Regions from separate parts of the Homo sapiens genome. Here region 2 is linked to region 1. Evidence: fine-mapped expression QTL. A gene starts in region 1. The other region holds a variant in brackets. All regions are shown on one strand. Distances are from middle to middle.

The links. PIP is the estimated chance that this variant, and not a neighbour inherited with it, causes the effect.
Region 2: its variant is the best candidate, but not a certain one, in a credible set for the expression of PABPC4-AS1 in visceral fat (GTEx, PIP 0.53).

Annotation. Positions count from the first base shown.
Region 1 is chr1:39,563,181-39,567,423 of GRCh38, reverse strand. PABPC4-AS1 (PABPC4 antisense RNA 1) reads right to left here and starts at 2,354. Exons shown (of 4, transcript NR_125979.1): 1 at 2,205-2,354. PABPC4 (poly(A) binding protein cytoplasmic 4) reads left to right here. Exons shown (of 16, transcript NM_001135653.2): 8 at 2,046-2,318; 9 at 2,651-2,738; 10 at 2,882-3,001; 11 at 3,502-3,588; 12 at 3,683-3,810. It overlaps SNORA55 (small nucleolar RNA, H/ACA box 55), which reads left to right; the gene lies at 1-50.
Region 2 is chr1:39,611,410-39,615,652 of GRCh38, reverse strand. No RefSeq gene overlaps it. Among named protein-coding and RNA genes, the nearest start is that of HEYL, 26 kb to the left of the region's middle. RefSeq lists enhancers at 1,995-2,164, 3,704-3,873. The variant G/A (reference allele first, on the strand shown) is at 2,079.

The sequences.
Region 1 (4,243 bases):
GGTTGTTTTCCATTTGTCTTGGGGCCTGTCTCTACAGCTCTGCCACATTTTCTCCTTGAGAATGAAGGTATTTTGAAGATTTTGGAGGTGGGCTTGGGAACTTCTACCCTGGTCTTAAAAAGAGAGGAAAGGGGAGTGGAAGGTTTTTCTATGTTTCGTAGTGTGCATCATTTGCTTGATTTTCTTTGATAATCATATCAACTAAGTTAGCAGGGTAAGTAGGAACCTCATTTTAAAGATAAGGAATTTTAGTCCTTGAACAAGAGAATGCTGACTACATGGGGATGGTGTACTGCTTGTCCTTGGCACTTTGGGAGCAGGATGGAAACTGGTGCCATCTGAACATTTTGAGTTATGGCCGGATGCAGACGCCGGTCTTGCTAAACAGGTGTACCAGATGCCACAAAATCCTTTAGTTGATGAGAAGGGAAGCCACGTGGGCTGGTAAGGGCTTAGTGGCCCTGCCCTGGCTCTTAGTGGACTTTGCTCCCAACCTGGGAATGTGGAAAGCAATGTTATCAGTTGTAGTAGGGAGTTGGCCAGAGGCCAACTGTGGGTTTGCCCAGTTCTTACCCTTTCGTTTTTGCTATGACCCCCCCCTTGACTGGCCCTCATCAGTGTAAGGAGTGATCTTCTATCCTTGCTTATCTGCCTAGTAGTCAAGTTGGCATTTGTTAAGAGAGCAGAAGAGCCATACCTTGAATTGTCCCCATTTTCATTATGATGGTGTGGCATTTTTATTCACATACCTTACTGGCCCATCTCATTGGTAGAGAGTTATGGAGTGATGCACTTCTTTACTTCCCTATCCTCCACTTCAGGAGGCTCTCTGGGCCATTAACTAAGACATAAAACAATGACAGTCACACCAGAGAAGACAGTGAATAACCTTGTCTATTAGGAAGAATGCCATTTGTGAATGATGAACTTAATGTGGGAAAAGACTGCCTGAACCAGTAGACCTGTGGTTTTGTAGCTGTTTGGAGTATTTCTTGGAAATTGAGCCTCAGGAAGGCAAGTGAGACTAGAATCTAGGCTGCCTATCTCTGAGCTGGTCATCTCATTGAATTAATGGTGGCAGTCATTGGTTACCTGAACATTTTAGGACTCCTGTCCACACGTGGTATTCCAAAAGTGTTATCCTGACGTTGGTAAGAGCTTGTTAGAGTTTGTCCACCGAGGTCTTGAAGCATATGAGATATGAAAATAAATTGCTCAGTACTACTCTCAAGATGTTTTGTGGTTACCCGGAGTAGCTATCCACCAGGTATCAGGAAACATCTTTGAGTTCCTGGTTTTATTATTAGCCATATCATAGTGTTTCAGAACTTTAGCATCACCTGGGGACTCAAAGAAAACACCTAGATACCTTAGAGGTTGTGACTTAGTTGGTCTGGGGTAAATCCTGTGCCAGAACCCTGACCTAGACTCAGTGACTGCAGCAGAACCCAGGCTTTCTGGTTCTTCTGAATAGTTCCCTCCCCACCCAGGGACATCCTTTTTTTTCCTATTTGTAGGTTTGTTTTGTTTTTTTTGTTGGTTTGGTTGGTTGGTGTTTTTGTTTTGTTTTGTTTTGTTTTGTTTTGTTTTGTTTTGGAGATGGAGTCTCGCTCTGTCGCCCAGGCTGGAGTGCAGTGGCGCGATCTCGGCTCACTGCAATCTCTGTCTCCCGGGTTGAAGCGGTTCTCCTGCCTCAGCCTCCTGAGTAGCTAGGATTACAGGTGTGTGCCACCACGCCCAGCTGATTTTTGTATTTTTAGTAGAGACGGGGTTGCACCATGTTGGTCAGGATGGTCTTGAATTCCTGACCTCGTGATCCACCCACCTCGGCCTCCCAAAGTGCTGGGATTACAGGCATGAGCCACTGCGCCTGGCCCTTTGTTTTTTTGAGATGAGGTCTCACTACATTGCTCAAGCTGGTCTCAACCTCCTGAGCTCAAGCAGCCCTCCCACCTCAGCCTTCCAAAGTGCTGGGATTACAGGCACAAGCCATCACACCCAGCCAGGGACACCTTATTTCTTAAGTAGCTGGTCTCATTTTGTAGGTAATGCTGGAGGATGGAAGAAGCAAAGGGTTTGGCTTCGTCTGCTTCTCATCTCCTGAAGAAGCAACCAAAGCAGTCACTGAGATGAATGGACGCATTGTGGGCTCCAAGCCACTATATGTTGCCCTGGCCCAGAGGAAGGAAGAGAGAAAGGCTCACCTGACCAACCAGTATATGCAACGAGTGGCTGGAATGAGAGCACTTCCTGCCAATGCCATCTTAAATCAGTTCCAGCCTGCAGCGGGTGGCTACTTTGTGCCAGCAGTCCCACAGGTGGGTGTGCTGTTTGGTCACAGCTCTTGGGAACCTGCCGGCTGGCAGTATTCTGCAGTGGTTGGGGAGAGGGATTTTTCGTTATTAGAGTTCTAGAATGTCACAATAAGGACCCTTCAAGTAAAAATGAAGGACTTACCCATGGTCACAAACACACACCCACAGTGGCAGTGGTAGCATAAAACAGTCCCCATTAGCTGACCCCTCAGCTCTTGAATAGAAAGAACATTTAAATAATTAGCTTAGGTCCTGGTTAGTGAGATGAGATGAGATACTTCTCTAGGATGGGTTCAGTCCTTAAGGGGGTGTTTGGGTATTCTTCTGTCTTACAGGCTCAGGGAAGGCCTCCATATTATACACCTAACCAGTTAGCACAGATGAGGCCTAATCCACGCTGGCAGCAAGGTGGGAGACCTCAAGGTAGGTGGTGGGGAACAGTAATTGACAGCCCAGGATATACCTGTCCTGGTCTCCCCTGCCTTTCCTTCTTCCCCACTCTGAGGCACAGCCTAGGTTCTGGTCCACATCACTTCTCAATGATGTGCAATTTTTCTCTTCACCAGGCTTCCAAGGAATGCCAAGTGCTATACGCCAGTCTGGGCCTCGTCCAACTCTTCGCCATCTGGCTCCAACTGGTAATGCTCCGGCCTCTCGTGGCCTCCCTACTACCACTCAGAGAGTCGGTGAGCAAACTGGCCTTTAGAAGTGTGGCCTGGGGAGGAGGGAGTCAGGATGACTAGGCTCTGTCCTGGGTTGGTCAGTTTGTTGGGCTCGAATTTATCGAGTCCTGGTTCTGTAATCTTAGCTGTGTGCTTAGGTGGCCACTTCAGGAGCAGAGAAACAGTATGAGTTCTAGGTGTGTCAGTTGCTTTTAACATTCTTTGCTCATCGGTGACCTATGTGAAAAAGGTTAGTTGTAGAAGTTTGCTAGCTGGATGACCACAGAGGCAGCTTGTTCTTTTGGGTGGGGTGAGGAATACAAGGAAACAGTGTATACAGAATATGTCTTGTATTCCAAGATGTGGAAAGAGTTGTATGTTATCCTTTGGCTCATCCTCGAAAGTAGTAGTGGCCCCCTGTGCAATGTGTTGCGTAAACGTGCTTTGAAATTTCTCCTTCCGTGGGACGTGGCCAGTTGGACATCTGCCGCCAACACTGATGTGCATTTGCTGGTCTGTTGTAGGGTCTGAGTGCCCGGACCGCTTGGCTATGGACTTTGGTGGGGCTGGTGCCGCCCAGCAAGGGCTGACTGACAGCTGCCAGTCTGGAGGTGGTATTGGATGCACACAGAAGGGGGAAAGATGGGATTTGACGGGTCTTTGCCCAGACTGATGGGCTTTAATTGTATTTGTTCTTTCCCTAAGGCGTTCCCACAGCTGTGCAGAACTTAGCGCCACGCGCTGCTGTTGCTGCTGCTGCTCCCCGGGCTGTTGCCCCCTACAAATACGCCTCCAGTGTCCGCAGCCCTCATCCTGCCATACAGCCTCTGCAGGTGAGGTTCACCAGACAGAATGCTTAAAAGGATTTCCCCCATTTCCACTTGATGTAAAAGAAGCTGTGCTTTTGATTCCTTCAACAGGTATTAAATGCCTGCTCTGTGTTATGACGCTATGTTCTGATTCACTGTCCCTGCCCTTCAGGGGCTCACTAGTGGGAAAGAAGGGGCTTAAAAGTGCTCTGCCTGATGCCAGTTCACTCAGAAATGCCTCAGAGCGGGCAGCCAGTGCTTCCTCTTCTGTTTGTACGAAATAATGTGCTCATTCAGCTGTTTGAGCCTCCAGGTCACTTCCGCATCCAATGACCTATTGGATCCTTGGCTGCTCTGCAAGATGATTGGTACATTAATGCAGGAAATAACTTCAACTTACAGATCGGATGTTCAGCTTCAAAGATGTAAAGTGTGTGTAGGAGGTGAAGGGGTTGAA
Region 2 (4,243 bases), 48 kb before region 1:
CGCCACTGCAGTCCAGCCTGGGGGACAGATGGACACTCTGTCTCAAAAAAAAAAAAAAAAAAAAAGAGAGAAAAAGAAAAGAGTCATTCAATCACGGTGACTTTGAGTGGGGGAACCTACTCTACTTCTGCACCCGGCTGGCTCTCCTGGTTTCCATGGTGACTCTGTGATTACTTGGCCTCTCTCCTCACAGCCCCCTCCCCTTTCCCACATTATTCTCCAAAAAAATGGTCCTGTTTCATGCCTCATGTTGAATACGGAGGGTTCTGGTAGTCTCCAGGATAGTATTATTTTTAAAAATCTGTGTTATCGAGGTGTAATTTATGTACAACAAAATTCGCCAATGTTAAATGTAAAATTTGCTGAGTCATGCCAGTGTAAACACTCAGGCAATCACCTCATAATTGTGATATAGAGCATTTCTATCACCCAGAAACTCCCTCTAAACCCTTTGCAGCCAATCACCTCCTCCAGTCTCAAGCATTGATCTGGTTTCTGTGTTTCTGCCACCATGGTTGTTTTTTGTTTTTGTTTTTGTTTTTGCTTTGAGACGGAGTCTTACTCTATCACCCAGGCTAGAGTGCAGTGGCACAATCTTGGCTCACTACAACCTCCACCTCCTGGGTTCAAGCCATTCCCCTGCCTCAGCCTCCCCAGTAGCTGGGATTACAGGCACACACCACCATGCCCAGCTAATTTTAGTATTTTTAGTAGAGACAGGGTTTTACCATGTTAGCCAGGCTGGTCTCGAACTCCTGACCTTGTGATCCGCCCACCTCGGCCTCCTAAAGTGCTGGGATCACAGGCGTGAGCCACCACGCCTGGCCCACCATGGTTTTGTCTATGTATAAATGGAATTAGACAGCAGGGAAACTTTTGAGTCTGGCTTTCTTCGCTTAGTGTAATGCTTTAGAAATTCATCAAGTTCTGTGAATGAGTTGCTCTTTCTTTTCGTTGCTGTGTAGTATTCCATTGTACAGATAGATCCCAATTTGTTTATCCATTCACCTTTTGATGCATATTTGGGTTGAGTCCTGAGGATGGTTTTCAGTCACAGAAAAGACTATTTGGAAGTTTATTTCTGGAGTAAACAATTAGTTTCTATTTATTAAAGTTACTAGTTCAAAACACTACTAATTCTTTCTTAACCTTAAGATTCAACCTATTGGCCAGGCGTGGTGGCTCACACCTGTAATCCCAGCAATTTAGGCAGCCGAGACAGGAAGATTACTTGAGGCTAGGAGCTGGAGACCAGTATGGGCAACATATCAAGACCCCATGTCTACAAAAAATTAAAATTTAATAATAATAAAATATTTAAAAAGTATAAATAAAATTCAGCTTACAAACCTTGTTTGAAAATCTAGATTTTAGCAAATGCTTCTAAGGGGCTTTTTACAACTTTATATCTTCAAACGTAAATGAATAGGTTTGATTTTCTTTTTCAGTATCTCAGTGTGGAAGAAAAGTTAAATATTAAATTTGAACTCAACTGAACATGGACACAAACAATGGTCACCAAGTCCCTGAACAGGTTGTGTGAGCCCCTTGAGGCGTTCATCCAGCACTGTTTCGGAGGAATCTCTATTTCAATCTATTCCTATACATTAGTTATTGAAAAACAACACACAATCGCAAAAACAAGTTGACCTTTTTGTGTTCCTTGAGACCGATAATGAAGGGCCCTCGTGACCGGACCTCATGCCAAACAACTCGTTACAAAAAGAGCTAGGGTCCCAGCTGCGCTGAAGCTTCATGAGACCTCTCCTCATCTGTGCATGGATGAGTGGCCGACTCTGGAGCCCAGGCTGTTGCTTCCCAGTCTGGTGGTGAATCCTCCATAGTCTGGTGAGTGTAAATATGTGTATATCTCTTTTCCCTTCTCCCCTTCCCATTGCAATTTGCTTATTATGTCATTTACTTATATCAATTTGCTTATTATATTAATTTCCTTATTATATCATTTGCTTATTATATCTGCATTGCCATTTACGTGGGATAAAGCTTGTTTACCCTTAAAGGTATTGTGTGTGTGCCTTTTCTTCTCCCCTCACGCAGCTCCCGCGGCTCCCACACAG[G/A]ACGCTCAGTTATCTGTATAAACAAAACCTTCCTGAAGATTTAAATCATTCTTATACATCAAGTAAATCCAAGTTATAAATAGGATGAATCTTAAGTTCTCTCAAAAATCTGTTTATCTAAAAAACTAGGGCTGGGCACTGTGACTCACACTTGTAATCCCAGGACTTTGGGAGGCTGAGGCTGATTGCCTGAGCCCAGGAGTTTGAGAACAGCCTGGGCAATATAGTGAGACCTCATCTCCACAAAAAATTTAAAAATTAGCCAGACATGGTTGCGCACGCCTGTGATCCTATCTACTCAGGAGGCTGAGGTGGGAGGATCACTTGAGCCGGGGAGGCAGAGGTTTCAGTGAGCTGAGATCCAGCTACTGCATTCCAGCCTGGGAAACAGAGTGAGACCCTGTCTCAAAAACAAAAACAGAAAACAAAACAAAAACCCTAAATGTATCTAGATTATTTCTTTGAACAGAAATATTAATGCTAAGGTTTTTTGTCTTTGTTTTTTATGAGAACGGGGTCTCACTCTGTAGCCCAGTCTGGAGTGCAGTAATGCAATCTCATCTCACTGCAACCTCTGCCTCCCGGGTTCAAGCGATTCTTCTGCCTCAGCCTCCTCAGTAACTGGGATTACAGGCACGCAGCACCACACCTGGGTAATTTTTGTATTTTTAGTAGAGACGTGGCTTCACCATGTTCGTCAGGCTGGTCTCGAACTCCTGACCACAAGAGTTCCGCCTGCCTCGGCCTCCCAAAGTGCTGCGATTACAGGCGTGAACCACCATGCCCGGCCAATGCTAAGATTTAAATTTTTGGTTTAGCATGCTAGTCTTAGTTCTAAATCTTCCTGAGGTTATGTTACATAAGTATCCTCATCAAGGACACTCTAAGGAAGAAAGTTCCATCACCGGTAACAGAGGTTAATTAATTTTTCATCTTCTAAGGTTACAGATGTGTTCCACAAAGAAAAAAAAGGCCGGGCACGGTGGCTCACGCCTGTAATCCCAGCACTTTGGGAGGCTGAGGTGGGCGGATCACGAGGTCAGGAGATCGCGACCATCCTGGCTAACACGGTGAAACACTGTCTCTACTAAAAATACAAAAAATTAGTCGGGCGTGGTGGTGGGCGCCTGTAGTCCCAGCTACTGGGGAGGCTGAGGCAGGAGAATGGCGTGAACCCGGGAGGCGGAGCTTGCAGTGAGCCCAGATGGCACCACTGCACTCCAGCCTGGGTGACAGTGCGAGACTCTGTCTCAAACAACAACAACAACAACAACAACAACAACAAAACAAAACAGACCAAAAAAAACCACAGTCCTCCCAGTTAATTGAGATCATGTGCCCACTAAGAAAGACACCTGTGGGGCTGCAGTGGCCAGCCATGCCCTCAGCACGGCACAAATTCTGTTTGTGCCACTGAATCTCTCCCCAAAGGGCTGCTGAGAGGCCTGTTTCTATAGCTGGGCTGGGAATGAGACAGAGCCCCTTGCAGGCTTTAGAGCTCTTCCTGTTGATTCAGGACTAAAAGCTTTTCATTCAACTTGTGATGTCAGAAAGCTGGGTGACTGACCGCCACTGCACAGTGACTTGATGGCCCCTTTGAAGCACAGGCCCACAAGGATTTGCAGGTAAATTGCAAATGGCCAATATCCAGTACAAACAGCCACCCACTGTGCCTGTCCCCCTGGCAGCCACTGCTTTTGGATTACTGCCCCTTCACCCTTGGTAATGCAGGCACACGGGCACGCAGTGCGGGACTGGTGGGCAACTCTGCCCACGGCCAGGCACAGGATCCACTAGGCAAAGCCAGCTGGGCTTCTGAGTCAGGTGGGGACTTGGAGAACTTTTATGTCTAGCTGGAGGATTGTATATGCACCAATCAGCACTCTGTGTCTAGCTGGGGGTTTGTGGATGCACCAGTCACCACTCTGTATCTAGCTAATCTGGTGGGGACTTGGAGAACTTTTATGTCTAGCTAGAGGATTGTAAATGCACCAATCAGCACTCTGTGTCTAGCTAAAAGATTGTAAATGCACCAATCAGCACTCTGAGTCTAGCTAAAGGTTTGTAACGCACCAATCAGTGCTCTGTGTCTAGCTAATCTAGTGGGGACTTGGAGAACTTTTGTGTCTAGCTGAAGGATTGTAAATGCACTAATCAGCTCTCTG